Regions from separate parts of the Homo sapiens genome. Here region 1 is reported to be linked to region 2. Evidence: microRNA targets listed by miRTarBase, many of them from high-throughput screens and not tested one by one. Region 2 holds a microRNA gene; the other region holds the end of a gene's coding sequence.

Evidence for each region. The annotated mature microRNA hsa-miR-668-3p reads UGUCACUCGGCUCGGCCCACUAC and lies in region 2 at 1,160-1,182, shown strand. An mRNA with a match to its seed (bases 2 to 7 or 8) in the 3' UTR can be bound and repressed. Matches are read on the target gene's strand: a 7mer-m8 pairs with bases 2 to 8, a 7mer-A1 pairs with bases 2 to 7 and ends in A, and an 8mer does both.
Region 1: miRTarBase lists LRRC57 as a target of hsa-miR-668-3p. Seed matches in the 3' UTR shown: 8mer at 1,329-1,336.

Annotation. Positions count from the first base shown.
Region 1 is chr15:42,541,225-42,544,587 of GRCh38, forward strand. It overlaps LRRC57 (leucine rich repeat containing 57), which reads right to left. Exons shown (of 6, transcript NM_153260.3): 6 at 1-2,900. The coding sequence ends at 2,859. Among named protein-coding and RNA genes, the nearest start is that of LRRC57, 5.9 kb to the right of the region's middle.
Region 2 is chr14:101,054,141-101,057,548 of GRCh38, forward strand. MIR668 (microRNA 668) reads left to right here and starts at 1,118; the gene lies at 1,118-1,183. It overlaps MIR382 (microRNA 382), which reads left to right and starts at 166; the gene lies at 166-241. It overlaps MIR134 (microRNA 134), which reads left to right and starts at 547; the gene lies at 547-619. It overlaps MIR485 (microRNA 485), which reads left to right and starts at 1,279; the gene lies at 1,279-1,351. It also overlaps MIR323B.

The DNA.
Region 1 (3,363 bases), not on the chromosome of region 2:
TGGGTGTGTTGGCTCCCACCTGTAATCCCAGCACTTTGGGAGGCTGAGGTGGGTGGATCACCTGAAGCCAGGAGTTCAAGACCAGTCTGGCCAACACGGTGAAACCCTGTCTCTACTAAAAATACAAAAATGAGCTGGGTGTGGTGGTGCATGCCTGTAATCCCAATTACTCAGGAGAATGAGGCACAAGAATCAGTTGAACCTGGTAGGTGGAGGTTGCAGTGAGCCAAGATAGTGCTACTGCGCTCCAGTCTGGAATGAAATTCTGTCTCAAAAAAGAAAGTAACATATGGGAAAAAGAGAACACCTAGACCAGATTTACGTCAGAAAGATTTTGTCGTGGAGGTTAAATAGTAGGTTTGTGTGATCTCTTGACTTAATGGATAAGCTAGGTTTAACCATTATTGAGAACTGTTGATATATAGTTAGTAATAGCTTTGTGACTAAGATAAAATCAGAAAATGACCAAAATGGTAGCTTTCTAAATGTTGATGTTAGTGGTAGTCTGAAATCCTCTACCTTTGTACCTTCAGATTCTTTTTTTTTTTTTTTTGAGATGGAGTCTGGCTCTGTCACCCAGGCTGGAGTGCAGTGGCAAGATCTCCGCTCACTGCAAGCTCCGCCTCCCGGGTTCACGCCATTCTCCTGCCTCAGCCTCCCATGTAGCTGAGACTACAGGCGCCCACCACTACGCCCGGCTAATTTTTTGTATTTTTAGTAGTGACAGGGTTTCACCGTGTTAGCCAGGATGGTCTCGATCTCTTGACCTCGTGATCTGCCCGCCTCGGCCTCCCAAAGTGCTGGGATTACAGGCGTGAGCCACCGCGCCCGGCCTTTTTTTTTTTTTTTGAGACGCAGTCTCACTCTATTGCCCAGGCTGGAGTTCAATGGCACCCTCACTGCAAGCTCCGCCTCCCGGTTTCAAGCAATTCTCCTGCCTCAGCCTCCTGAGTATCTGGGATTACAGGCACGTGCCACCACACCCAGCTAATTTTTGTATTTTTAGTAGAGATGGGGTATCACCACATTGGTCAGGCTGGTCTTGAACTCCTGACCTCGTGATCCACCCACCTCAGCCTCCCAAAGTGCTGGGATTACAGGCGTGAGCCACCGCGCCCAACCTCAGATTCTCTTAATAAGCATAGTTCTAGTATCACAAAATGTTTATGTCACATGAAGGCATTTCACTACTCATACAATCTGAACATAAGCATGAAACATGTCTTCCTAATCTATTTATAGGTTTAAGTTCTCCTGTCCTCCTCCTTTAAAGGATTAACCTTGCTTCCAGCCAAAGTTCATTAAAAAATTCTTTATTTAGTATATTCTGTCACTCAGAGAGTAAGCTTGATAAACATAGGTTGTTTTAAAATATTATAGTAATGGTTTATTGATAGGTAATTTGGTTAGTAGAGTTATAAATACAAAAAGGGAAAGGTTACCAGAAATAAGACATTATTTCTAACAAATCTTCAAGAAAATCTTGATTATTAAAGTCCCTTTTATCTTACAAGTGTTGCATATACAGTTTTGGCTCTTCAGAGCCCTCTACCAATAAGGCACCTGCAATAGTAGATAATTTGCTACCGCAGCCTTAGAGAGCAGTTCTTAGAGGTCTGCTGGTGCTTCTCTTGACAAAGCACACTTTTTTTTTGTTTCCCCCGAGACAGAGTCTTGCTCTGTTGCCCAGAGTCGGAGTGCAATGGCATGATCTCGGCTCACTGCAACCTCTGCCTCCTGGGTTCAAGCAATTCTCCTGCCTCAGCCTCCCAAGTAGCTGGGATTACAGGTACCCACCACCACGCCCAGCTAATTTTTGTATTTTCAGTAGAGACAGGGTTTCACCATGTTGGCCAGGCTGGTCTCGAACTCCTAACCTCGTGATCTGCCTGCCTTGGCCTCCCAATGTGCTGGGATTACAGGCGTGAGTCGCCGTGCCCAGCCAACAAAGCGTACTTTAAAAAAAAAAAATTATTTTTTATTTTTTTAATTTGAGACAGAGTCTCACTCTGTCACCCACGCTGGAGTACAGTGGCATAATCTCGGCTCACTGCAACCTCCACCTCCTGGGTTCAAGCGATTCTCCTGCCTCAGCCTCCCAAGTAGCTGGGATTATAAGCATGCACCAACACACCCAGCTAATTTTTGTATTTTTAGTAGAGACAGGGTTTCCTCATGTTGGCCACGCTAGTCTTGAACTCCTAGCCTCAAGTGAGCCACCCGCCTTGGCCTCCCAAAGTGCTGGGATTATAGGCATGAGCCACCATGCCCAGGCCAAAGTGCACTTTTAATCAAGACAAACAGTCACACATTTATGTACATCCTAAAGTCCTAGTATAAAAACTGCGACTGAACTGATGGACTAGAATAAAAATAATAAATCCTTAGATCCATGCCAGCCTCTCACAAATTATCTGAATTTCATAAAAATATGAAGTGTTAACACAGAGATGGAATGGCAACAGACTTTATGAAAGCTCACACAGTGAAACTAAACAAAATCTCAAGCTGTGGTGTGGAGCTATTCTGTTACCAGGCAGCACCCCCTCACCATATAAATAGCAGCTAGCTACTGGTTTCTTAAAGCCAAACTAATGATGGTTTTGAAGAGAACCTTGTCTATTGCCCTACTCATGACTCAAAACGGAAGACTTTTCCTGTCTCCTGATCCTTTTTCTTTTAGCTTATTTGAGAAGAGCCCTGAAATGAGAAAAGATCATTGAGTGAAATATAATCTCCTGAAGTATCATCTCCTTACTGTAGATACCCCTAACAACAACAGGAGGCTTTGACTCAGCCACATTCCAACAGAGGTTCTAAGTCAGTATCCTGTAAGGTTTCCATAGTCCTGGAGAACTTCACGCAAACTTCTTCTTGGTGGCTGTGAACCTCTCCATGTACTAAAAAACATGAAAGAATACATAAGGGGTATTTTGGCATGAGTAAATAAATATAAGCCTAACTATTTTTTTTTTCATTTTGGTTTTTATTGCATGTGGTTTTTCATTTCCTACAAAATATAACTGCTGTAAATGCAAAATGAATTACATAGTTTTGGCCAGGTGCAGAGGCTCACACTTGCAATCTCAACACTTTGGGAGGCCAAGGTAGGTGGATCGCTTGAGCCTAGGAGTTTCAGACCAGCCTGAGCAATCTACCAAAAATAGAAAAATGAGGCATGGTAGCGCCTGTAGTCTCAGCTAATCAGGAGGTTGAGATGGGAGGATCACTTGAGCTGAGATCCTGCCACTGCACTCCAGCCAGGTGACAGAGTGAGACCTTGCCTCCAAAAAAAATAAATAAATAAAGCACATAGGGCCGGGTGTGGTGGCTTACACCTGTAATCCCAGCACCTTGGGAGGC
Region 2 (3,408 bases):
AGGTGAGTGAAGGGTTGCCCAAACTCCAGTGTGTTCCTAGGACACCCGTAAGCTGCCTCACTAATGCTCGGTGTCCACTCTGTCCACAGGATGGTGGTTGGCAGCCACTCCCCTTGGAGAAGTGGAAGGGGACTCCTTGTCTGTCTTGTCTCTGCTTTTCTGTGGTACTTGAAGAGAAGTTGTTCGTGGTGGATTCGCTTTACTTATGACGAATCATTCACGGACAACACTTTTTTCAGTACCAAATGCTACCTCTAAGGACTTCCTGGACACAATGGCAGCTTCAGGAAAGATAGTCTTTGTGTCAACCATGTGGAAAAGCCAAGAATGGATGGCGGGCCATGGACAATGCGCTGACCTAGCTGTAAGTCACCTGGCCCGATAATCCGAGCCTCCCATGCACCTATAGGAGGTCTTCCCATGGGTCTCACCAACTCTGGGGAATCAGCTGTGGTTCTGTCACCAGCGTCACCTCACAAGACTTTGAAGAGAGGCTCCCTGGGCCCCAGGCCGACTTCCAGAAGAGATGTTGGTGTCAGCACCGTCCAGGGTGTGTGACTGGTTGACCAGAGGGGCATGCACTGTGTTCACCCTGTGGGCCACCTAGTCACCAACCCTCAGCATCACTCCCACTCCAGGAAGACTTTCCAGAGCTCCCACCAACTCTGGGGAAGCGGCCATGGACTTGCTGTGACTGCTTGGTGGACTGCGATGACACGTGCTCTTGGGGGTGTATGTTTACTTAAAATGCAATGAGTCAGCCTTGGCAGCCCCTTCACCACTGTGACAGCCTCCTTGAAGTGTTGACTTCCGATGTGGGACGCCATGTTGTCTTCTGTTGAGGGACCTGATGTGGGCCAGCTTTTCTCCTGGGTGTGTGACTGAATCCTTCTTCCCAGAGCATGTGCTGCCTTTGTTAGGTCTGTCACGTCGTCCTCTAATACCCAGCATCCTGTCTCTCCCTAGGAGGCTCCATGGAGATAATGCGGCTTTGGGAAGCGGCCATGATTCTCCTGTCAGGGACCAGTGAGCTACGCAAAAGCTCCCTGTCTTGTCTGGAAGGACGAACTGCATCCTTGCTGCTGGGGAGAAGGCAGTGCCCTCAGCACTCCCTTAAGGTAAGTGCGCCTCGGGTGAGCATGCACTTAATGTGGGTGTATGTCACTCGGCTCGGCCCACTACCCAATACTATCCCACCCATTCCTAACAGGACTCCCGAGAAGGGCGGCCACCTCTGCCAGAGAGGCAATGGATTTCTCACCAGTGTTCATGTGTGGTACTTGGAGAGAGGCTGGCCGTGATGAATTCGATTCATCAAAGCGAGTCATACACGGCTCTCCTCTCTTTTAGTGTCAAATTCTGCCTCGGAGGGCTTCCTGAGCCAGTGCTGCTTCCAAGGTAGGTTTCTGGATGGCTGACCCCATGGCAAGCATTTTCCTGAGGATGCATGTAACTGACCTACTAACTTTAGAGTCCAAGCTGACCCTAAAACAACTTCCTGGGGCACTACCAACTTTAGGAAAATCGAGAGAGGTTGTTGGGATGCCCTAATTTTTTAAAAGTTAAGATTGAAATACACATGGCTGACTTCTTTTTTTATTCCTATCAAATTCAACCTTGGAGTTGAATCTTGGGCATCTAGAAGCATCTTTTATTAGTCAGCCGTCGGGATACAGAAGAAAACAGGAACAGGACTCTGTGCGACCCCTGGTTTACTAACCCACAGCAGCCTTACACCCTCCAGAGAATTCCTGTAAGGGAATCCCAGGTTTACCAAGGAGGCAGTGCTTAGCCTGCTTTTGCACACACATTTGTGTGTGGTTTGCTTCATATTTAATGACTCCTGTGCCACTGACATCCTTGCATTATTAAATGTTGCCTGCATGGCCAGCTGAGCACAAGAAGTGGTATTTCTGTGCACACTAATCCTGGCTTGGTGAACCTGGGGTTGGCCGGAGAGCATGGGTTTGAGCCACCTGGTCCACTCATCCTCAGGGTCCCATCCACCCTCAGAGGCCACTCCCAAGCTGCCCAGGCTGTGCAGAAGATGCAGGAATGCTGCGAGCAGTGCCACCTCATGGTACTCGGAGGGAGGTTGTCCGTGGTGAGTTCGCATTATTTAATGATGCCCAATACACGGTCGACCTCTTTTCGGTATCAGATCTCACCAGGTGTCTTCTTGGACCTGATGCCGATTTAGGGGACACCATACTCATGTTGGTTCCACACCAGTGCAACTGAACATGTGTGTGGCCCTGGAACCAATGGGTAGGTGCTGCTAGCACTCCTAATCCTCAGCCAGTGCATTCCTGGGGAAGAAGCATGTGATCTGTGCTCAAGACCCCTCTGTGACTGAGGAAGTGGTGGTGCCCATGATGCTTCTGGGGTTTTGTGTTTTTTTTTAAAGAAAAACAATGTATAGTTCTCTTCTCTTTCACTATTAAATCTTACCATGGAGGAAGGACTTCTTAGACATGTTGACAAATTCAGGGAAGGGGCGTTGATTTCAGCATTCTTGGGGACTCACTGGAAGGGTGACTCACCACATCTGTTGATCTGGAGGCCACAGCAAATTTAAGAACAGAAGACAGTTGCATTTTCAATTTCTTGTTTTTCTTTTCAAAAAGGATAATTATTCTACCTTATTACCATATTTATGAAAATGACACATGCTTAATAAAATTCAAGCGATGTGGAAAAATCTAAATGAAAAAGAAGGAAAATTGCCCAATTCTCTGGCACCCAGAAATAACCATTAAGGGCTTTAGAAATTTCATACACCTGTCTGAGCATACATGCAAATAGAAAAACAAGACAGACGCAGGGAAAATATGAGATCACACTGTACCTAATCATTTTATTAAAAATGCTAACTATAATTTTCCTTGAATTTATCATAAAAAACAAGCTAAAGGAGATTGAAATGATTGATAAATGTTTCTCGCTTTACCACCACAGGTAGCAACTCCTAAAAGATCCCTGTAAAATTAAGAAAAATTAGAGTGTAAAAATTAAGTGGTTAGGATTGTTATGGTTTTTAACTATTTCAATTTCACTCCTAGTTCAGAAAGATAAAGAAGTCAGCATTCTTATTCTTCCTTTGCTTACTATCTCCTGCTTTTTCTCAATTATACATTTTAATTTTACATTATAAATATCTGCAATTTGTTCTAGAACTATAATTCTTGCAGGTGTTTTGCCATAGTTCTATATTTAAATGAATTCATTTCTGACCACAAGGTTTGTTTTTTTTTAACTGAGGTTTCTCCGTTCTTTAGTTTTTAAGTTTAATTTATCTCTCAATGGAAATGATCTTATTGTTTCTGTGAGAATAGCTCATAGACACTACCCTTGAGTTCCTGTGCATTTGAGAGTATATATCTCTTTATGCACAAGGGACAGCTTAAC